Regions from separate parts of the Homo sapiens genome. Here regions 1 and 3 are each linked to region 2. The links come from fine-mapping of genetic effects on plasma protein levels. A gene starts in region 2. Each other region holds a variant in brackets. All regions are shown on one strand. Distances are from middle to middle.

Region 1 (8,189 bases), 52 kb after region 2:
CTTCAAATAAAAGAGAAATTACCATGATTTTTCTCTTTGAACCTGAGGAATCAACAGACTTGTAGATATTTTTCCAAGTGATTATGACACAGAAGGAGTAGAGGAGATGTGGATGCACAGTGGGCAGGGCAGAGAGACTGGGACAGTCCTGTTGAGTTCTCTGTAGATACAGAATACTGTGGAATCTCTGTAGATACAGAATACCATGGTGGAAAATCCAGTTGTGCCAAGGGATGTCGTAGTCAGGACAGCAGCTGGGGTGAATGCACATGCCGTGTGGACAGGGACTAGGCAGCAGTGACAGCAAGGAGGACAAAGGACAGCCAAGGAGGTCTAAGGACAACCCCTAATGAAACAGAGTTGTGTAAATCTTAGTGGAAGTGAGCAGGATAGCTGATGACTTAAAATAAAGTGTCTTACCCTGGATGCTAAGTTACTTCAAGGGTCTCCTAATTCTTAGGAGCCCCACAAAGTCAGGGAGGTGCTGAACCATAAATTGGCTGAGTTTACTTGGAATTGATTGAGAAAAACTTTGAGTGAATGAATTTCCCTTGAAATTGCAAAATTCAATTTCTGCTCTAGGTACCATAGGAGTTTTGGACAGAAAGTAGGAAAAATACTTGCATTTTTTGCATACTTGAGATTTGTGGTTTGAAAATTCAAAATCTTAATAAGAGTTTAAAGAGAGAGAAAGTGGAGAGTTTGAAACAGTCAGTTATTCTCTCTGAAAGGGGAAAAATGTTTTTACCATGTAAATAATTTCTCCTTCCTGATATACCAAGTTTACTTCCATAATCATAATTATCATGAATAAGGATTGAACATGATGCCAACATTTATATGCATATTTCATTTGTGTCTCATATTAATCTATCAGGTATAAGGAATTTTGCTCATTTTGTAGATGAAAAAAACAAAGGTCTAGAATATGTTAAATAATTTACCAAATGTCACAAGGCAAAATTCACCATATTCCAAACTGTTTCTTTCTAACCTCTCTTTCCAGCTTTCATCTCACCCAGCCAATAACTAATGGTAATTACTTCCATTTAGCAAGACTTCCTTTTGACAGAGATCGAGCCAATTGTTCCAAATATTTAATTTCCCTTAATCCTTAAAAAAAGTTCATGGTTTTTGGTATGATTTATTTCAAATCACTACTTGGATGATTTGAAATAAATTACCTAACTGAGCCAACTAGTAAGCACTAGAAGCAAGATTTAAACCTAAGTCTGTCTGTCTCAAAAGCTCATATTCTTAATTATACTAACACTCTTCTGCCACTCAGACACCTGAATCTACCACTCCTAGGAAACCTTTCCTAACAAACTGAAGGAGTGATGATTATGCCCTTTTATCTTTCTGTTCACTTCAACAACATATGTATTGGTCAGTCACAAAATTCATGCCCCCTTCTTCTTGGGTATGGTGGTGTGTAGTAGGAATGGAAGTGATAGGTGCCATTTCCAGGCCTGGTGCATTGATTCCCCAATGCCTTTCACCATGCCCTTTCTCCTGGATCTGGCTGCATACAGGTGCAGATAGACCTTAGAGGATAGTAGAACAACAGGATGGAAGCATCTGGAGTCCCTGAATAACAGCTTGGAGGAGCAGCATCTCCAGAGAACTGATACCTGCTCAGGACTGTCGGGGAAAAGCTTCTACTGTACTGAACCATGATTCTATTTTGGTATATTTGATATTTGCTGCAGCATCTTAGTTTATTCTAAAGAATACAATGGAAAAGGACATGGCAGGAAAAAGGTAACCAATAGAAAGTAGGGGAGATGTATTAAAATCAGACAAAAAGCATTATTGAGAGATTACTATTAGCACATGGCAATGACATGCATTTTACAGAGAACACTCTGGCTGTAACGTGTTTTGGCTGTGAGCAAGCCCAGAACAAAATTGGGAGTAGGAAGAGCAATTAAGAAGCTATAGTAGCAACCCAGGATAAAAATGATGGGGACTGACCCAGAATGGTAGAAGATGAGTGAACAGATTTTAGTGATTTTAAGTTTGGAAAATCAATAGAACTTTAAGTGGTTGGTTATATGTGACTGAGAAAGGGGAAAGGGGGAGGACTCAAGGATAAGACCTATGCTTCCGGCTGGATGATGGTGATGTCATTTACAGATATACATACTATAGGAGAAATGGTAGGTAGGTGAGTGGAATGGCAATGATGAGTTTGGTTTTTATTTTTATTTTTTAAATTTTAATTAATTTATTTTTGAGGCAGAGTCTCACTCTGTCACCAGGCTGGAGTGCAGTGACGCAATCTCAGCTCACTGCAAGCTCCACCTCCTGGGTTCAAGCGATTCTCTGGCCTCAGCCTCCTGAGTAGCTGGGACTACAGGCACGTGCCACCACGCCTGGCTAATTTTTGTATTTTTTTAGTAGAGACAGGGTTTCACCATGTTGGCTAGGATGGTCTCGATCTCTTGACCTCGTGATCTGCCTGCCTTGGCCTCCCAAAGTGCTGGGATTACAGGTGTGAGTCACCACGACTGGCCGGTGAATTTGTTTTTTAACATGTTGCCAAGAGGGACTTGGAGGGTTGACTAAACAGATTTGGAGCTCAGGAGAGAGAAACAAACTGGAAGTCTAGCTTTAGAATCAATGAGTGTTTACTTGGTAATACCAAGAAAGTAGATGAGTTTTTTTTTTTTTTTTTTTGTATTTCATGTAATAAATGAGGTGTTGTAATTGCTCCTCACAACCCCCACTCTTGCTGTGGACTCACCAGGACATAGAATGAAAACATCTCCACTATCCCCACTTCTTCCAAGAAAATCCAGCAGGTCTGAATTCTCCTTATCTCCAAGGGTCAGTGAACTCTGTGTGTGTGCATGCATGTGTGTGTGTGTGTGTGTGTGTACACTCATGCATGCAAGCCTAGGCTTGTGCATGTACAAGGCTCTCGGTATGATGAGGCTCCATTGTCAGAGACAAAATGAGGAGGCAGGCTGTGGTTTCAGTGGATTGAAACAGAGCCCAGTCTAAACCAGATAGATAATTTTACCAGACTGCAAATGTGAACAAAGTGTAATGAATTGGATAATTCCTGCTCATAATAAAACTATGAAGGTAGAAAGCTCTTTGGTGTAGGGGACTTACGCTGGTACCAGGAGAGACTTGGCACCAAGCTCCTCCTTTGGGAGCCTAGGTAAAGATCTCTATATCTGAAGGTGACATGAAGAACATGAGGCTGCTAGAAAAAGCTGTGCATATTTGAGTGGATAACAGTCTTAGGAAACAAACAATCACAATGTCTACCACTTTGTTATTGAAGATGAGATGCCACTGTCACAGTCTTCCTTGACTATGTAAGTCTGGGTTCTGTTACCCACAAAGAGTAGGGTAGAAAACATCCAGAATTGGCCCTAAAGCTTTTGCTTCTCTTAGTAAGTGGATACTTAAACCAGGTTTAATTTACTTTAGTGGGAGTAGGGGATACGGTGACATTTCTTTCACCTATATTATTAATAGAACATCTGTGACTATGGATAAATAACCTAGGGATGAAGAGGTTTAATATCCCTTTTCTAAAATCACATAAGCCATTCTTCTGCCTTCTAAATCCAGGTTGTTGTTTTTTTTCACTAAGATGGGTTGAAAGAAAATTCAGAGCTTCTAATCCCTGGTACCCTCATCTTTGCTCTACGCTACTTTCTTACAAAAGCAAGTTACCTTTGAATCTAACAGGTATGGTCACTTGAGGATGAGGAGAGTTATGTGCAAAGATGACACCCCTGTGATCAGAAGACATTCTCATAAGGATTCATATTGAATGAAATAGGATTCTGATCTATAGTGTTATATTTCTGATGCACAATACTGATGTTTGCCAAAATTAGCTTCCCCTCATTCTTGTTACCTTTAATGGCTAGGTTATTTCAGCTCAACATATAGTATCTATATGGACCTGAATTATTCATGAGGCTGAAAGCATAGCTGTATTCAAAGGTGTTCTGGGTGACCTGCGTTTCACAAGCTGCTTCATCAAAGCTGAGCATGGTTCCCTGGGTTTTAGTGATGCTCTCATCTGCCAGAGACTGACTGGAATATGCAGTCACTCATGGTGAAAGGGAAACATGTTTCTCATTCAGCAAGTATGTGGTTCCATCCACAGAGTTTACAGCACGGTTGTATTTGAAGTTCAGTCCTAGAACTTTGTAGCAGTAAAAATGATCGTGATTTATAGGAAAATGTCACTCGGCCATCTCCACTATAAAAGCCTTTTATAACTCTCATCGAATATAAATCAGGATGTATGCAGCCAACAAAATGATGATTTTGGCATAACGTTTTCAAGACAAAAAGAAATGGCCTAGAATTGTCTTGGCTTTTTACTGAGGACAAATATTACAGGAATTTATTGCTGGTCCAAGATCAATATTCCTGTCTTTAAAAATAGATATGAGTAAATTTATGTCTTGGTGAAATT[C/T]CAATTACATAAATTAATTAAAGCAGTCACCACAGAGTTCACCCACAAATACCAAGGATGCCATGCCCTTTTTTTTTTTTAGGTTTTAGCTTTTGTTAAACCATATTCTAAGATACATAACTCAAGCTTAAAGCTATATTTCATTCTAATGGGGGAGGAAAAGGATGGGCCTCACAAAGGATTGATTCAAACTTGCTAAATTTCATGGTGGAAATACAAAAGAAGCTTCATATTGTACTCTTCTCCAAATGTCAACAAGATGTGAAAAATGATGATCGAACAAAAACTGCATTTGAAGTGATGGCCCCATTTTCTCATGTATTTTTGCATCACAGAATACTCAAGGTAGAGATCAGCATAAAGAAGTGAGGGCCAGGTGCAGTAGCTCACTTCTGTAATCCCGGCACTTTGGGAGGCTGAGGCGGGTGGATCACCTGAGGTCAGGAGTTCAATACCAGCCAGGCCAACATGGCAAAGCCCCATCTCTACTAAAAATACAAAAATTAGACAGGCATGGTGGCGGGTGCCTGTGATCCCAACTACTTGGGAGTCTGAGTCAGGAGAATCACTTGAACCCGGGAGGCAGAAGTTGCGGTGAGTGGAGATCGTGCCACTGCACTCCAGCCCGGGAGACAGAGTGAGACGCCGTCTCAAAAATAAATAAATAAATAAATAAATAAATAAATAAATAAATAAATAAATAAAAATAAAAAGAAGTGAGGATTGAGAGAATCCACGATCATGTGAGAATCTGGAAAGAACATCCAGTTCTGTGGCAGCGAAGGAGAGGAGGTAAAAGATCCTTACGTGACTGCCTCAGGGGTGGAAAAAGAATGTTGAGATGCATTGGGAAGAATGATCTCTAAAAGGCTATAAGGAGGTGCTCAGAAAGCAAATCAGGTAAATAAAAAAAAACTTGGCTTTTCTTTTTTTCAGGCAAGTGAGCTCACTCCCCTTACTCCTCTCACTCCAGCACTTACCTTGACATATCTCACCCAAAATATTGTTGAGAGGCAATATTAGGCTCTATGCTGGGCAACTTCGAAGTCCTACTGCTGGCGTGAAGTGAAGGGCAGTCAATATAAGAACTTTTAGGAACTGTTGAAGGAATCAGAAATGTTCATCCTAGACAAGGGAAGTCCCTAGAGACCATGGTACCTGTTGTGTAGAAAAGGAAATATACCTGTTGTGTGAGGTCTCAATGGTTTGATGTAGTATTAATAGAAAGATCTCACATTCATATATTCCACAAAATGTGTATTAAGCGTTATATGCCAGGCAGAGTTTTAGGCACTGAAAATACAGAGAGAGAGAGAGAGAGAGAGAGAGGGTTTTGATTTAATATAAAGCACAGCATTCTTCCCGTTTCTTTTTTTATTTTTAAATTTGAGACAGGGCCTCACTCTATCACCCAGGCTGGAGTGCAGTGGTATAATCTCGGCTCACTGCAACCTCTGCCTCCCAGATTCCAGCCGTTCTCCCACTTCAGCCTCCCCAGTAGCTGGGACTACAGATGCATGCCACTACACCAGACAAATTTTTGTATTTTTTGGTAGAGAATGGGTTTCACCTTATTAGCCATGCTGGGCTCGAACTTCTGACCTCAAGTGATCCGCCTGCCTTGGCCTCCCAAAGTGCTGGGATTACAGGCGTGAGCCACTGTGCGCAGCCTATTCTTCCCTTTTCTTAATCAACATTATTGATTCTAGGTAGTATTCTAAAAAACATCATTTCACATATGGTTCTACTGCTCCTTTCATTGGCCAGTGTTTCCTCTTAGCCTTTGCTTATATAGCAGAAAATCTCTATCATAGTTATAAGGATCAGATATAATTTTATTCTACTTTTAAAATTTAAAAATAGGCCAATCGCTTCCTATGAGTATGAGGTATGAACTTTTTGGTGATGCACTGGGCTGACCTACAAACCAGTGAGTTTTCTATCCTGGGGTCTTTTAAGAAGAATCCAGGTGATTACTTGGAAGTTATTCAAATATTTATAGCAAGGCTGTAGGGATTGTTTTGAGAAGACACTAAAAGAAGGATAATGTGAAAAGAGGCCTAGTGACTCAGAGGTCTGGTGTTAGTGTATATAAAGGGGTTTAATATTGAAGCAGTATTTGAAGCTCATATTCCTCTCTTCTACAACTGTCTAATACTTTCTCCTAGTTCGTGTTTCAATGATTTTTGAATAATTGTTCTCTTTTTTTCTAGTTATCTTCTTAACAATATTATGGCTTTTTTTCCCCTAACAACTCTATGATAAGGAAGAACCCTTCTCATGTAGAAAATTCAGTGCACTATGGATGTCCCAAATATACTATCATCTTTATGGTGTTAGGATAAGCATCTCCAAGGAAGAGACAATGTTCCTAGATAAGATGGTGTTATGTTCTATTCCTCTGCCCTATTGTTAAGAATCATGGAAAAGAAGAGGGAAAATGGAGAACAGAGTCAGTGATATATAGTGTATCAGTAAGATACATGGAATCTTTGTAGAAATTCCTCTGAGTCGAGCTTGAGGCCTGTGACCTGTATGACAGTAAAATTATACTAGCTATGTAATATTTGACTCTCTTCTAAATTATCCCAGGATTATGAAGTATTACAACACAGATTCTGGTATCAATGATATTATCATATGAGACATATTATCAAATAAATTATGTTTAACTTTTCCAATGTATAAAAAAAGCATATAAGAAAATAATAGTGTTAAAATATTGGAAAGAAACCAGAATCACAGGACTTTTTTCTCCCTACATTTAAAAAAATTTAAAAAACAACAGGAAGTATTCATTTAGATACACACATGCTCTAATTTGCCAAATGTAGTGGTAAAGAAAGAAATAGAAGATTTTAATGAGGCTCAATTATTAACTTCTGGCAATGTCCAATTGCCAGAAACAGTATGGTGAAAGATTAGTGGACAACATCTTGAGATTTTGTATTAACAACTGCCCCTCCCCTTCTCCTTCCACATACTCACAGTAATTTGGAAAGAAATAAACTAAGGAGGAAAGTAAACAGAGAAAAAAAATAAGAAGAGAATTTTATATGAACTATCACATGAACTTGGAATCTTAGAAGAGGCCGAAAAACCAGCCTTGGCTCACTGTATTCTAAAACCCTAGGCTCAAGAAAGGAAGTGAACCCAGAAGGAGTGCACAGATTAGGTGATCTTGGGTTCCTGGACGTTTGGCAGAAATCTATGAAGAAAAAGAAGCACTTGGGCTCTTCCACAAAGGCTGAACATGGGCCCAGCAGACGAAATCCACCTCTATCCAGACCCTGAAGCTACAGAAAACTAGACAGAAGGGTAGGCATCCTACTCCTTGGGTGCAGCTAAGAAATGAAAACAAACAGGTCTTAAGTAAGAAAAGAGAGCTGACTTAAAAATCATTTACATTCAATAGAAGTTCTGGACAGAGTGCCATCTGCACATATTAAAAAGGAGAAATATTTTTAAAGAAATACTTGGCAATAATGCAAATATACTACCAGAAAGAAATAGAGGACAGAAGGAAGGAAGGAGGGAAGGAAGGAAGGAAGGAAAAAAGGAAGGAAGGAAGGAAGATAATGGAGGCTGGAGAAAGGAAAAGAGGGAGAGAGGAAAAAAGTGAGAAAGAAGAAAAGAATAAAAAGAAAAAAAAGAAGAGAAAAGAGAATGCAGGCAGGAAGGATACAAAAGGTAGACAAAGAAAACAGTTTGGAAGAAAGCATAAATAAATGAAAGG
Region 2 (8,161 bases):
CTGAAATTTCTCTCCACTGCGGTAGATGACCCCATCGAACACACAGTTATCTCCCTCTACCGCTAGAATATTGGGGAAGCAAAGTGAAAAGCAAAGAGGAAGAGGAAAAACAAGAACACAATACAGTGAAGAAGCTATGTAAGATTTGGAGGGCATGTTCCAAAACCCAAGTCCTTTTCTAGTTCAGGCGATCTGGTTTCTCATGTATCTACTGTAGAGTGATGTCCTCATGGAGGCCTCTCAGAGCAAGAAGAAACCTTCAAGATCATCTAGTCTTGCCACTCATTTTATGGATGAGGAAAGAGGTGTGCAACTGTGAAGTGATGTCCCCAAGGTCCCCTGGCCATTTTTCCCAATGTTCAGTCATTTTGCGAGAACCTCCTTAGAGTTTCCTACTCCAGCAGCTTAGACTTAAAAAGAGAAAAAGTGTACTTTATGTTTTCCAACAGGTTAGCTGATCAAATTGGGAAGGGCATTAAGATTCCTTGACACTCAAGCATAATAAAATCATCAGTAGCTTAGAGAAAAAAGTAAAAGCCCTCCTGTCCAGAAAGGAAGGGACAATCTTCAACTACAATGTTGTATCATGTGAAAAATTGATCCCCGACTGATTACGTTTTAGAAGCCTGGATTGGCTAGTTGCCTGCATTTTATTTTACTTGCAGCCAGAAAAGGGTTACATAGTTATCCCAGGAGACTAGCAGCTGCTTTGGTTCAAATGGGACAATTACAGGTGTGAAAACAAACCTGCTGGGTTTTCCCCAACTGCAGTTTGGGAAACTGTGAGCGTGTGAGTAAACCCGAGCTTCCATCAGCCCCAAGTGGCCCCCTAGAAGTGTCCGAAGGAAATGACTTCACTGGCCCTTAACTCTGCGTGGCTCCCCCTTTGCTTAGATTCTTGTCTAGGAAGCCAAGTGAGGAATGCCTTTCACCCCCAGGGCAGGTTTCCTTTCTGGCTCTGGCGCTCCCCAAAGCCCCAAGTGCTCCCCAAACCATGCCTGACACACAGTAAGTGCTCTATACATGTCATTTATTGCATTATTATTATTTGCTTATCGCCCTCTGGGAAGGGGAATACAAAAGAGAAGGGAGGAAGCAGCTTCACTTAGCTGCAGGAGAAGAGGTCAAACAGCAGAGGGAGCAGGATTACCCGTGCAGATGCCAGTCTGGTTGCTGGGGTCCGCGCTGCGATCACAGTAGAGGCCACTGCTCTCGTCGCATGGCTCCAGATCTGAGCAGCTCTCGCCACGCTGGCGGGCACACACCAGACAGCATGAGCAGCCGTCCAGCACCGCGCGCACCCCGGGGGCGCAGGTCGGCGGCGTCGCAGGGCACCGGCCCGGGCACTGGGGAGGGCAGCGCTGAGTCGCAGCGACCTGAAGGCAGGCGAGACAAGGAGAAACCACTCAGCTGGGACAGAAGACGCAGTGAGCCCGGTGACCAAATGGGGGCCACCAAGGCGGGCAAAGTAACTTGGGGGCATCTTAAGGGTGTGCCACTTACCTGTCCCAGGAGATGGAGAAGCAGGAAGGTCAGGCAAAGGCACTGCTTTCGGAGACAAAAGCTCGTGCTCTGCACACTCTGCATGCTCAGGCTTTCCCCTCTCGCTTTTACCAAACGAGACTTTCTTCGCTGTAGATTGGCACTGCTCGCCTTCCCCCTGGTCCGGTGCTTGCCGATCACGCCCAGCACAGGTTTTATAGCGCGCTCCTGGGACGCGCACAAGCCGGTTGGCTGCAGTGCAGGGAGGAGGGGGGAGATCGGCTGGGTGGGGAAGTGGAACGAACCCCGGGGTTGCCATGGCAATTGGCTGTGGGTGCTGCTCTCCTTAGGGCGCGGCGCCGGGGCCTGCGTGTGCCTGTGTGTGGCGACTGGCTTTTCCCAGAGGGTGGGGAGGGGCTGGGTGGAGTTCCGAGGCCAGGACCCAGGGCTCGCTCGAGCGCGTGGGAAGGAAACGCCCGTTTCCTCCTGGAAGTTGCTTCGCCTTCTCCCAGGACGAAGACACCACCACTCCCCACCATCCTCCTCCACCCTGACCGTTCCAACCAGGGCTGCAAGCGTGGGGTCCCCTTACGGGATGCCTGCAGTTTGGGGCCATCTGCAGGGGATTGGCAGAAGGCCCAGGGGTTTAGTCATGAGGGAAGCACATGCAAGTTTGTCACCGTTTAGGGCACTCATTGAATGTGTTGAGAGGGAGGGGAGAGAAGCAAGGGAGGAAAGGAGAGAAAGAGGAGAAAGAGAAAAGTGTGTGTGTGTTGGGGGGAGGGGAGTGGCAGGGGGAAGGGAATCTAGAAAAAAAATCGATATGTCAGGAGGTGGGGAATGCTATTGGCCAAATGGCAAAATTCTTTTGACTCTAATCCTTCTAGCTTCACTCAGTCTTAAACCCCAAGGTCCACAGGTTTGTTAGAAATAAAAGTAAAACACACACACACACACACACACACACACACACACACACACATAAAGAAAACATCATAAAATAAAACAAAGAAATCTTGGCAGAAGAAAGCCTTGAAGCACCTGCTGTAGCAGACCAAATGTGAGACGGCACACCTGAGAGTCCAGAAACCTTTGACAGTTTTCTAAGTGGGTTCAGTTCAACCACCATCACCACCATCAAAACCTCCAGCCAGGGAAGAAATGAGGAAGAAACTGGCTTAACTTGGCTGACCCTTCAGCAAATCAAATCCTTCTCTCACCGGGCATCCGCTTTCAAGAAATGATTGCTGGGGCATGCTTGTCATCTCTCATGGGAAAAAGGGAGCAGTTTTACTGCTCCAAAGGTGACATTGTTTGAAGGATTTAGAACAGTTTCCCCCCACACTTCAACACTGGTGCTGCCCCTAGGAGAACTATGCCCAGCTCTTTTGAGGATAGTTGCTTTGGAAAAAAACAAAAAACACTTTTTAAGGAAAATTATACAGGCCTGTGATGTAATTCTAGAGTTTAAAAAGAAACAAATGGCCTCTACCTCATCTGTCCCCAGCATGAAGGAAATCAAAGGCAGCTTGCGGAAGGGGCCAGGTCTGCCTCTGCAACACCCGCAGATGATGAGGTCACCTCAAGCCCCTTCTAGATAATTCTCTCGGCAGCCTGAAACCACTATGACACACTTCCAAGCCTCTAATAGTTCTGCTTTCTTTGAGGTAAATGAGACTGAGTAGTACTCAAACTTAACTAGAGATGAAACAGTTCATTTGCACTCTTGAGTAGGACATTTACCTACTCTTCAAATTGATAGGCTTTGGAGGGTGGAGGGTGGGAGCAGGGAGAAGATCGGGAAAAATAACTAATGGGTACCAGGCTTAATACCTGGGCGATGAAATAATCTGCACAACAAATGTCCATGACACACATTTACCTGTGTAAACAAACCTGCACATTTACCCCTGAACTTGAAATAAAAGTTTAAGAAAAAGATAAAACAAAAAACAAAAAAACTGATAGGTTTTGTAAGCCATTTGGCCTAATGATGCCTCCATCTGGCTGCAGATCGAATCAACCAGCATGTATTTTGTTAAAAATACAGATTCCTGAGCCCCACTCTTGACCCACTCAGTAGGATTCTCTGGTGGTGGCTCTTGGTAGACAGCATTTTAATGTACTTTGAAATGGAGCAACTAGAAGCACTGCTAATGGGGAGGCAAAGAGCATCGGCCAAGTGTTCCAAGCATGAATAGACTCAGATAGAACAAGGAGAAATTGGCAACATGGAGATTGGGCTAGCTCTTCTTGGAAAGAGTGGGGTGGGAGTGGTGACAGGGAAAATGTAACTTTAAGACAAGGATTAACATGTCAAGAAGTCACTGCAAGTGTAAAATTGCTATTCAGTTTTGATTGCAAGAGATGGAAACCAAACTTGAACTAGTTTTTGCGAAAAGAGGACTTTACTGGAAGGATGCTGTGATGTTTCACATAGTGACAGCACAGGAATGGTACAGGGAGTCCTCAGAGGCAATTGGGATCTAGAGAGAGGAGGGCCAACAGGATTACTTCCACATAAGGGAAAAATGATCCTTCCAATCTTCTTACTTTATGACCTTATCACCACAGAAGGAATGTCCCTGTCTCTTAGGCCCAACTTTAAAAGTTCCAGGAATTAAATTGGATGGGTTCACCCTGGACTAATCAATGGGGACAAGGAAGGTGAAGTATGGGGATTAGTTAGAACCTCATGGTTGGAATGGAGAGAAAGAGCAGTTCTCTTGGGAAGAAAGGACTGTTCCTTAAAAAGAAAGCAAGCTTGGTGAGCAAAACAATACACATCCACTCCATCATCTGCTATAAATGCTCTAGGATGAGGATCTTCATCTTAAAACAATTGTAAATTGAAAGTGATACCATCTGATGATAATCATGTCATGTCATGCTTCACTGCCTCCAGGACATAGTCTCTGAAATCCTTCATGCCGGGATAGATGTTATCCGCAGTGCAGGCCTGGGATGCCGAGCTTATCTCTTTTATCTCATAACTCACTGGATAATCATTATAGTCACACCATTTAATGATGGGGATATTGTTGGAGAAATGTGTCCTTGGGTGATTTCATTGTTGTGTGAACATCATAGAGTGTAGTTACACAGATGCGGATGGTGTAGCCTACTACACACCTAGGCTGTATGATATAGTCTATTACTCCTAGGCTACAAACGTACAAACAGTACAGAATATACTGCACTGAATACTGTAGGCAACTGTAATACAATGGTAAGTATTTGTGATTTAAACATATCTAAACTTAGAAAAGGTGCAGTAAAAATATGGTATAAAAGATAAAAAATTGTCCACCTGTGTAGGGCACTTACCGTGAATGGAGCTTGCAGTGGGTGTCAGTGAGTCAGTGGTGGGTGAATGTTAAGGCCTTGGACATAACTGCACACTACTATAGCCTTTATAAACACTACACTTAGGCTAAGCTAAATTTATTCAAAAATTTCCTTTTTCAATGATAAATTAACTTTAGCTTACTGTAACTTTTTTACTGTATAAACTTTTAATTTTTTTAACTTTTCGACCCTTTTGTAATAACACCTACCTTAAAACACAGATACATTGTACAGATGTACAAAAATATTTTCTTTATATCCTTATTCTACAGGCTTTTTTTTTTTTTTTTTTTTTTTGAGATGGAGTCCCTCTCTGTCACCAGGCTGGAGTACAGTGGTGCAATCTTGGCTCACTGCAACCTCTGCCTCCCTGGTTCAAGCAATTCTCCTGCCTCAGCCTCCCAAGTAGCTGGGACTATAGGCACACACAACCACGCCCAGCTAATTTTTTGTATTTTTAGTAGAGACAGTGTTTCACCATATTGGCCAGGGTGGTCTCAATCTCTTCACCTCGTGATCCACCTGCCTCGGCCTCCCAAAGTGCTGGGATTACAGGCATGAGCCACTGTGCCTGGCCTCTATAAGCTTTTTTCTAGTTTTAATATTTTTATTTTTTTTTTTTTTGTGAAAAATAACACACAAACATACATATTAGCCTAGGTCTACACAAGGTCAGGATCATCAGTGTCACTGTCTTCCACTCCACATCCTGTCCCACTGGAAGGTTGTCAGGGGTAATAACACACATGGAGCTGTCATCTCCTCAGATAACAATGTCTTCTTCTGAAATACTTTCTGAAGGATCTGCCTGAGACTGTTTTATAGTTAACTTTTTTTTATGAGTAGAAGTATGCTCTAAAATAATGATGAAAAGTATAGTAAATACATAAACCAGTGACATAGTCACTTATTATCATCATCAAACATGGACTATACATAATTATATGTGCTATACTTTTATATGCCTGAAAGTGCAGTAAGTTTGCTTACACTAGCATTACCATAGACACATGAGTGTGCTACAATGTCATGACAGCTACTATGTCACTAGGCTATAGGAATTTTTCAGCTCCATTACAGTCTTATGGGACCACCATTGTACATGCCGTCCGTAGGTGACCAAAATATTGTTATGTAAGATGTGACTGTACTTGTCTGTTTTGGTGACTGCCTCCCTGTCCTGCCTGGGAGTCCTTGAGGACACAGAGCATGTCGTATTTACAGTAACATCCCCAACATCCACCTCAGGGTCAGGCAAGTGGTCAGTTCTTGGACCTTTTGAGATACTGCAAACTCCACTTTAAGTTTTGCCACTTTTCATTGCTCTGCATAAGATGAGATAAGAAACAAACTGGAGGCTGTTTGCTCTTCAGCAGCAGCTAAATTGGTCCTATCAGCCACCACCCATCAGCCTGTGACATGAAACTTCTCTGGGTCTTGCTTGGCACTAAAAGGATGGAATACAGGCTGGTGATCTTCTCCTGTTTGAAATAATCCATGTGGCAGTTGAGGTCTCTGGGAGAAGTCAGGGGATACCTTATTAGAGATTCTTTTTTGAATTGCTGGGCTTGGCAGCTAACCATGGGGTTATGAACTGCAAGGACTTTGGCCAATTTACTTTTCCCCCTTTAATTTTGTCCTCTCCTTTCATCCCCTCATCACAGATGTGACATCAGGGGCTCATTTTTGCCTTTTCTTTTTCACATAGCCTGTTAATTGATTTATATTCTTATTACTTCTCAGTCAGTACTCTTATCCAGAACACACTTAGAGAATTGCCTACATTTTCTAAAGGTACTATGTTGTTTTCAGTGCTATTGTGTTATCTTTCTTATTATTATGAAAAATTTAAAAAATTGGTGCTAAGTTCTGTAGCAGGTAGTTAAAATAGCACAGCCCCTGCCCCCATATTAAAAAAATGAAACAACCTCATAGAAGTAGAGAGTAGAATAGTGGTTACCAGAAGCTGGGGGAAGTCAGGAGGGGAGGACATGAGGAGTCAGTCAGTGGGTACAAAGCTACAGTTAGGAGGAATAAATTATCCTGTTAAATTGCACCATAGGGTGACTATAGTCAACAATAATATTTCAAATACTAAAAATGCTCATCATCACTGGCCATCAGAGAAATGAAAATCAAAACCACAATGAGATACCATCTCATGCCAGTTAGAATGGCAATCATTAAAAAGTCAGGAAAAAACAGGTGCTAGAAAGGATGTGGAGAAATAGGAACGCTTTTACACTGTTGGTGACCGTAAACTAGTTCAACCATTGTGGAAGATAGTGTGAAAATTCCTAAAGGATCTAGAACTAGAAATACCATTTGACCCAGCCATCCCATTACTGGGTATATACTCAAAGGATTATAAATCATGTTGCTATAAAGACACATGCACACGTATGTTTACTGTGGCACTATTCACAATAGCAAAGACTTGGAACCCACCCAAATGTCCATCAATGATAGACTGGATTAAGAAAATGTGGCACATATACACCATGGAATACTATGCAGCCATAAAAAAGGATGAGTTCATGTCCTTTGTAGGGACATGGATGAAGCTAGAAACCATCATTCTGGGCAAACTATTGCAAGGACAGAAAACCAAACACCGCATGTTCTCACTCATAGGTGAGAATTGAACAATGAGAACATTTGGACACAGGATGGGGAACATCACACACTGGGGCCTGTCATGGGGTTGGGGGAGGAGGGAAGGTTAGCATTAGGAGATATACCTAATGTAAGTGACCAGTTAATGGGTGCAGCACACCAACCTGGCACATGTATACATATGTAACAAACGTGCACGTTGTGCACATGTACCCTAGAACTTAAAGTATAATAAAAACAAGTTTCAAATACTTCAGAATAGCGAGAAGACAGGATTTTTAATGTTCCTACCACAGAGAAATCAAGAGCATTTGAGGTGATGGCTATGCTATTACCCTGATTTGATCATGATGTAATCTATACGTGTCTTGAAAAATCACACTGTACCCCTTAAGTACGTAGAATTATGATGTATCAGTTTAAAAACAACATACAACTAAAAAAAAGGAACAAAAGTGGTGATAGTGATGTTATCACCTTCAAGACAACTCCCTGCCTCTTTTTTTCTCAGTGATTGTATTCTCCGTAAACTCAAAGGCATTCATCCTGTCTTCATTTAGTCATTGTTTAGCCAAGCCACATGTACTTAGCTTTCATAATGTGCCTCATAAATCAACCCCACAGCTTTTTAATAATTTTGTTGCTCTTTTCTGAATTTCATTCATATGTCCCTTTTCTGGGGCCCCAGGGAGTTGATAGAACACAAGGTAATTTC
Region 3 (8,189 bases), 42 kb before region 2:
ATTCAACAAGAAGAGCTAACTATCCTAAATATATATGCACCCAATACTGGAGCACCCAGATTCATAAAGCAATTCCTGAGTGACCTACAAAGAGACTTTGACTCCCACACAATAATAATGCAAGACTTTAACACCCCACTGTCAACATTAGACAGATCAACGGGACAGAAAGTTCACAAGGATACCCAGGAATTGAACTTAGCTCTGCACCAAGTGGACCTAATAGACATCAACAGAACTCTCCACCCCAAATCAACAGAATATACATTTTTTCAGCACTGCGTCACACCTATTCCAAAATTGACCACATACTTGGAAGTAAAGCTCTCCTCAGCAAATGTAAAAGAACAGAAATTATAACAAACTATATCTCAGACCACAGTGCAATCAAACTAGAACTCAGGATCAAGAAACTCACTCAAAACAGCTCAACTACATGGAAACTGAACAACCTGCTCCTGAATGACTACCGGGTACATAACGAAATGAAGGCAGAAATAAAGATGTTCTTTGAAACCAACGAGAACAAAGACACAACATACCAGAATCTCTGGGACACATTCAAAGCAGCGCGTAGAGGGAAATTTATAACACTAAATGCCCACAAGAGAAAGCAGGAAAGATCTAAAATTGACACCCTAACATCACAATGAAAAGAACTAGAAAAGCAAGAGAAAACACATTCAAAATCTAGCAGAAGGCAAGAAATAACTAAAATCAGAGCAGAACTGAAGGAAATAGAGACACAAAAAACCCTTCAAAAAATTAATGAATCCAGGAGCTGGTTTTTTTGAAAGGATCAACAAAATTGATAGACTGCTAGCAAGACTAATAAAGAAGAAAAGAGAGAAGAATCAAATAGATGCAATGAAAAATGATAAAGGGGATATCACCACCGATCCCACAGAAATACAAACTATCATCAGAGAATACTACAAACACCTCTATGCAAATAAACTAGAAAATCTAGAAGAAATGGATAAATTCCTCGACACATACACTCTCCCAAGACTAAACCAGGAAGAAGTTGAATCTCTGAATACACCAATAACAGGATCTGAAATTGTGGCAATAATCAATAGCTTACCAACCAAAAAGAGTCCAGCACCAGACGGATTCACAGCCGAATTCTACCAGAGGTACGAGGAGGAACTGGTACCATTCCTTCTGAAACTATTCCAATCAATAGAAAAAGAGGGAATCCTCTCTAACTCATTTTATGAGGCCAGCATCATCCTGATACCAAAGCCAGTCAGAGACACAACCAAAAAAGAGAATTTTAGACCAATATCCTTGATGAACATTGATGCAAAAATCCTCAATAAAATACTGGCAAACCAAATCCAGCAGCACATCAAAAAGCTTATCCACCATGATCAAGTGGGCTTCATCCCTGGGATGCAAGGCTGTTTCAATATATGCAAATCAATAAATGTAATCCATCATATAAACAGAACCAAAGACAAAAACCACATGGTTATCTCAATAGATGCAGAAAAGGCCTTTGACAAAATTCAACAACCTTCATGCTAAAAACTCTCAATAAATTAGGTATTGATGGGATGTATCTCAAAATAATAAGAGCTATCTATGACAAACCCATAGCCAATATCATACTGAATGGGCAAAAACTGGAAGCATTCCCTTTGAAAACTGGCACAAGACAGGGATGCCCTCTCTCACCACTCCTATTCAACATAGTGTTGGAAGTTCTGGCCAGGGCAATTAGGCAGCAGAAGGAAATAAAGGGTATTCAATTAGGAAAAGAGGAAGTCAAATTGTCCCTGTTTGCAGATGACATGATTGTATATCTAGAAAACCCCATCGTCTCAGCCCAAAATCTCCTTAAGCTGATAAGCAACTTCAGCAAAGTCTCAGGATACAAATTCAATGTACAAAAATCACAAGCATTCTTATACACCAACAACAGACAAACAGAGAGCCAAATCATGAGTGAACTCCCATTCACAATTGCTTCAAAGAGAATAAAATACCTAGGAATCCACCTTACAAGGGATGTGAAGGACCTCTTCAAGGAGAACTACAAACCACTGCTCAATGAAATAAAGGAGGATAGAAAGAAATGGAAGAACATTCCATACTCATGGGTAGGAAGAATCAATATCGTAAAAATGGCCATACTGCCCAAGGTAATTTACAGATTCAATACCATCCCCATCAAACTACCAATGACTTTCTTCACAGAATTGGAAAAAACTACTTTATAGTTCATATGGAACCAAAAAAGAGCCTGCATCGCCAAGTCAATCTTAAGCCAAAAGAACAAAGCTGGAGGCATCACGCTACCTGACTTCAAACTATAGTACACGGCTACAGTAACCAAAACAGCATGGTACTGGTACCAAAAAAAGAGATATAGATGAATGGAACAGAACAGAGCCCTCAGGAATAACGCCACATATCTACAACTATCTGATCTTTGACAAACCTGAGAAAAACAAGCAGTGGGGAAAGGATTCCCTATTTAATAAATGGTGCTGGGAAAACTGGCTAGCCATATGTAGAAAGCTGAAACTGGATCCCTTCCTTACACCTTATACAAAAATCAATTCAAGATGGATTAAAGACTTAAACGTTAGAGCTAAAACCACAAAAACCCTAGAAGAAAACCTAGGCATTACCATTCAGGACATAGGCATGGGCAAGGACTTCATGTCTAAAACACCAAAAGCAATGGCAACAAAAGCCAAAATTGACAAATGGGATCTAATTAAACTAAAGAGCTTCTGCACAGCAAAAGAAACTACCATCAGAGTGAACTGGCAACCTACAAAATGGGAGAAACTTTTCGCAACCTACTCATCTGACAAAGGGCTAATATCCAGAGTCTACAATGAACTCAAACAAATTTACAAGAAAAAAACAACCCCATCAAAAAGTGGGTGAAGGATATGAGCAGACACTTCTCAAAAGAGGACATTTATGCAGCCAAAAGACACATGAAAAAATGCTCATCATCACTGGCCATCAGAGAAATGCAAATCAAAACCACAATGAGATACCATCTCACACCAGTTAGAATGGCAATCATGAAAAAGTCAGGAAACAACAGGTGCTGGAGAGGATGTGGAGAAATAGGATCACTTTTACACTGTTGGTGGGACTGTAAACTAATTCAACCATTGTGGAAGTCAGTGTGGCGATTCTTCAGGGATCTAGAACTAGAAATACCATTTGACCCAGCCATCCCATTACTGGGTATATACCCAAAGGACTATAAATCATGCTGCTATAAAGACACATGCATACTTATGTTTATTGCAGCACTATTCACAATAGCAAAGACTTGGAACCAAGCTAAATGTCCAACAATGATAGACTGGATTAAGAAAATGTGGTACATATACACCATGGAATACTATGCAGCCATAAAAAATGATGAGTTCATGTCCTTTGTAGGGACATGGATGAAATTGGAAATCATCATTCTCAGTAAACTATCGCAAGGACAAAAAACCAAACACCGCATGTTCTCACTCATAGGTGGAAATTGAACAAAGAGAACACATGGACACAGGAAGAGGAACATCACACTCTGGGGACTGTTGTGGGGTGGGGGGAGGGGGGAGGGATAGCATTAGGGGATATACCTAATGCTAAATGACGAGTTAATGGGTGCAGCACCCCAGCATGGCACATGTATAAATATGTAACTAACCTGCACATTGTGCACATGTACCCTAAAACTTAAAGTATAATAATAATAAAATAAAATAAAATAAAAATATTTTTCATGCTTGTGTTATGATCTACCACATGGGAGATCCTGGTTAATATTCACATGTGCACTTGAGAGAATGTGTATTCTGCAGCTATTTAGTGTAGACTTATGCAAATTTAAATTAGATTAAATCGGTTGATAGAGTATTCCAGTCTTCTATATCCTCATTGATTTTTTTTTTCTTTTTTGTTTTTTGAGATGGAGTCTTGCTCTGTCGCCCAGGCTGGAGTGCAGTGGCGCGATCTCGGCTCACTGCAAGCTCTGCCTCCAAGGTTCACGCCGTTTTCCTGCCTCAGCCTCCCAGGTAGCTGGGACTACAGGCGCCTTCCACCACGCCTGGCTAATTTTTTTTTGTATTTTTAGTAGAGACGGCGTTTCATCATGTTAGCTAGGATGGTCTCGATCGCCTGACCTTGTGATCCACCTGCTTTGGCCTCCCAAAGTGCTGGGATTACAGGCATGAGCCACCACACCCTTCCTATCCTTATTGATTTTTAATATACTTATATCAAATATGTAGAGATGTATGTTAAAATCTCCAATTCTGATTGTTAATTTGTCTATTTCTCAGTTTTTGTCAATTTTTGATTCATGTTCTTGAAACTCTGATAATAAGGGCATACACATTTTGAAGTGTTATCTTTCTTGTTGAATTCACTATGTTGACATTATGGGGTGGTCTTTTTGATGACAACTTTCATTGTAATACACTTTATCTTATTTTAAAGTAACTACATCTACATTCTTATTCTTAAGTGTTTTCACGTTTTTCTGTACTTTTAAATTCTGCATATCCATTTATACTTAAAATATTTTTCATGTAAATAGCATATAATTGGGTCTCGTCCACTGGCTGAGGGAATGTTCTACACCCTTTTTGGTAGCTCTCACAGGGGTGCTAATCAGTACCAGTCAGGATGTGATCTGGTTTGGGGTGGTGTTTTGAATTTGATCTCACTATTAGGGCCATTAAAAAAACCAAGAGTCCAAGGTGGTTTTACTTCTTTTCATTCCAACCCCAACCTCCTTGCTGCCATAAGACTGAGATATTGGTTTTATCAGAAGTTATATTGAGCTTTTGGTTGCAGATTTGACTCAATGTCATTAAGTGCTTTGGAAGTGATTCAGGGTTCACCCTTTAGAAGTTCCCTGGGACCAAACATTGAGAGCCTGTTTCACCTTAAAACTAAACTATGAAACTTTAAGATTGTTAGACTCAGGTTTTGCTAGATGGTGAGGCTTTGATACTG[C/T]AAAGTCATGAGAACTGCAAACTGTAAGACTGTGAATTCAGGAAACTTCTTTTTCTTTCCAGCCCCACCCTAGCCTTTGCTTACTTTGAAAAATCCCCATGTGAGAAAATTACTGGATAGTAAAAGATTGTATCTGGGGCTCCTCCATTTTCAAATCTTGCATGCCAGCCCACAGAGTTGTCAAAAGCTGGGCTACTTTCTTCTCAAAGTGATGTGTGCAACATGTGTGTCATATCCTTAAAAGAAAGCTTGCGGGCTTCTTTCTCCTTTGTTCTTAATGGCTAGGAATTAGCGACAACCAGAGCAACTGTCTAGGACCCAGAACAAAAGTTAAATTTAAGACTGGCAGAACTTTATTCCTGAGTCTCCTTGAGGAGCAGAGCTTCTAGCCCCTTAAACTACCAACCTGTGGGACTGTTTTGTGATAATGAATGAAATTTCATCTTCCTAATCCCACTGTAACTTGGGATCTCTTTGTTACAGCACTTCAGCCTGTACCCTGTGTGATACAGAGTATTATATAGATGATATGTCTTGCTTAACATATTGTACTTTGTGTTATCTAGAGATTCATGACTTTAATTAAAATCTGATTAGGCCAGGTGCTCATGCCTTTAATCCCAGCACTTTGGGAGGCCGAGGTGGGAGGATCACTTAAGCCCAGGAGTTCAAGACCAGCCTGGGCAATATAATGGGACACGATCTCTACAGATGTGTGCCTATAGTCCCAGGAACTCCCAGCTACTTGGGAGGCAGAGGTGGGAGGATTGCTTGAGCCTGGGAGGTGGAGCCTAGAGTGTACGGTGATTGTGCCACTGCACTTCAGCCTGGATAACAGAGAGAGACTCTGTCTCAAAATAAAATAAAAAAGTAAAATAAAATAAAATAATAAATCCAACTAGTCCTAGAAAGTTCTAAGGCATTATCTCTTCACATACTGCACTTTCTTAACTTTTTCTGTTCTGTCTTTCTGGAACTCTGATTAGAAATCAGGTATTTTAATTCTATATTTGGTATTTCTCGACTTCTCTTCTATATTTTCCGTGTTAGTTTCTTGTGCTACATTCAGTATATCTTCTTGAGATCTATCTTTTAATTCACTTCTGTTATGTCTATTTTGCTCTTTTATCCATGTATGTAGTTCTATATTTAAACAACTGTTATTTCATTCCTAAAAGTTGTCTTTCTTGTTTTCCAAATCTGTGGGCTCATTATTTTGCTCTTTGACTAATTTTTATCTTAGCTTTATTTAAACTGTCTATACCTAGCTATTTTATATTCTGTGTCTGACAATTCTAATATCTATAGTAGTAAAGTCTCAAAATTGTTGATTTGTTGCTTCTAATGACTTTCACTCATGGTGGCTTATCTTATGTGTTTGGAGATCTTTGAGTATAAGCTCAGCTATGGTTGGTTTTAATTTGTGGGGATTCTCAGAATCTAAGCTAAGCTAAGGATACTTTCTTCCAGAGAAGATGTGTATTTGCTTTTATTTGAAGGCAGAGGTTGCTCTTAACTTTGGGTGACTGTCCTTAAGGCAATTTCAGCTTTTGCCTTTGCTTACTTGTCCCTCAACCTGTTTGAGGTTATCCTTCATTTTTCTTCATTGCTTTTTTTTTAAAGGAGAGTTTGAAGATTACCTTTTCTTCCTCCATTTAGAAGGTACATTTTTATGCAGGTTAATTGTTTTGTAGAAAATAGGCTTCCAATCATGAAAGTTTATGGCTTGTCCTTTTAAATTTGTTTTTGTATACTCTTCCTAAAGTTCCTTTTCTCTCCCCTAAGCTTGGCCAACTGTCATATAATCAACCTAGTTGTGCCCAGATTCTTTCTTTGCTGCCATATACATAATAAAAGAACACCATAGAAATTCTTCCATTGTATTAATTACCTCTTAAAAATGTAAGAAGTTATTTATCTTTTTTACCTTAGTGTATGAATGGACTAATGGTGGATACATACCACTGTAACCCAGGGTCCCCAAGTTTTTTGGGGTACAACTGTGGAAAAGTAACCACATGTAACTGTTGCACCTTGAGTTCTTATTGTTTCAAAAAGTTCCAGGAAGAAACTCAGCCCCAGAAAAACGAAAACCAATTGGATCCAGAGATGCCTGAATTGGAGATGAATTTTGGTGAACTCATTACCATACTAAAAACCCTGCCCAAGGAGGAGCTTATTCACCATTTTCTATACATGCAATACATGTAGAAGAATGATCAGTGACTGCACTCAAGCTCCCTTGACTCCACCTCTACATACAATGACTCAGCCAGCCAGCCTCATAACAGCCCTGTTTTCACCATTGTTCCAGGAGGCATTGCTTTGGGGAACTATCTGTGGTGTCCTCCTTCCTTATTGCAAATAATAATATCCCCTTGTTAAACCCTTCTTGGTCATGGTCATTGGGCTGTCACCTGCCAGGCAATTGAATCTACCTGTTGTGTGGGTAATACCACCTCTGACTTTTTCTGCACCTTTACACTCCGGTACAGGGCCTGGTGCCCAATAAATTCTGGTTGAAAATTTTCTATCTTCCATATTTTCTGTGGCTTGCAAATAACTGGAGACTTGGAGATAATGTGATAAATGAAGAAATCGCTAGAGTCACAAGAGAAACAAGAAGTTCAGTTTCTTCTTTGGAAATATTCCAAATACAATTATTTGTGGAAGGATTTCTGAGTGGTATGAAGAATGGAGATAAGGGGCAGGAAATTTACATTTTAATTTTCTTGGAAAAGTAAAAAAATGGCTAAGCAAACGTAGATATAAAGATATTTTTGTTTTGAAAACTAGTTTTTGCCCTAAGATGATAAATCACTTGAATGTGTGCAAAGAAATATATGCAACTATAATGCTCCCTAGTGGTCACTTTCTGCCAGAGCAAAGAACAAAATTGAGGTAGTATTCAACAAATAGGTGGTGTGTTGGGTATTCTGAAATGCAGAGACTGTGGTTTTCTTGAAGTCAAAGTTGCCCATGCAGAAATCCAAGAAAGTTTCCCTTTCCCCAGAAAACATTCCAATCACTAATAAATGTACATAATATTGGCCGAAGAAATAAAACCTACTTCATTATAAAAGACCACATACATACTAAAATTTTTCTTTTTTTCCACCAACATATTGACATTTGCTATCTGACAATCAGAAAGTTTAATTACTCATGACTTATGCTCCCAAAGTGCTCAGAATATT

Direction of the effects. Positions count from the first base shown, and alleles are read on the strand shown. Strength reflects both the effect of a copy and how common the allele is.
For the plasma level of the protein whose gene starts at base 1,674 in region 2, allele T in region 1 goes with a lower level than allele C (weak association).
As copies of T replace C in region 3, the plasma level of the protein whose gene starts at base 1,674 in region 2 goes down (weak association).

Evidence for each region. PIP is the posterior inclusion probability: the model's chance that the variant is causal. The UK Biobank Pharma Proteomics Project read protein levels with antibody pairs (Olink). The fine-mapping took linkage between variants from a reference panel, not from the people measured, so its PIPs are less certain.
Region 1: its variant is fine-mapped to the plasma level of the CCN3 protein (UK Biobank, PIP 0.94).
Region 3: its variant is fine-mapped to the plasma level of the CCN3 protein (UK Biobank, PIP above 0.99).

The regions. Positions count from the first base shown.
Region 1 is chr8:119,358,305-119,366,493 of GRCh38, reverse strand. The region is part of intron 1 of LOC124902009 (a long non-coding RNA gene); the gene reads left to right. Among named protein-coding and RNA genes, the nearest start is that of MIR548AZ, 37 kb to the right of the region's middle. The variant C/T (reference allele first, on the strand shown) is at 4,454.
Region 2 is chr8:119,409,959-119,418,119 of GRCh38, reverse strand. It overlaps CCN3 (cellular communication network factor 3), which reads right to left and starts at 1,674. Exons shown (of 5, transcript NM_002514.4): 1 at 1,504-1,674; 2 at 1,151-1,376; 3 at 1-62. The coding sequence starts at 1,587. LOC124902009 (a long non-coding RNA gene) reads left to right here and starts at 1,811. Exons shown (of 2, transcript XR_007061077.1): 1 at 1,811-3,149.
Region 3 is chr8:119,451,743-119,459,931 of GRCh38, reverse strand. No RefSeq gene overlaps it. Among named protein-coding and RNA genes, the nearest start is that of CCN3, 39 kb to the right of the region's middle. The variant C/T (reference allele first, on the strand shown) is at 4,993.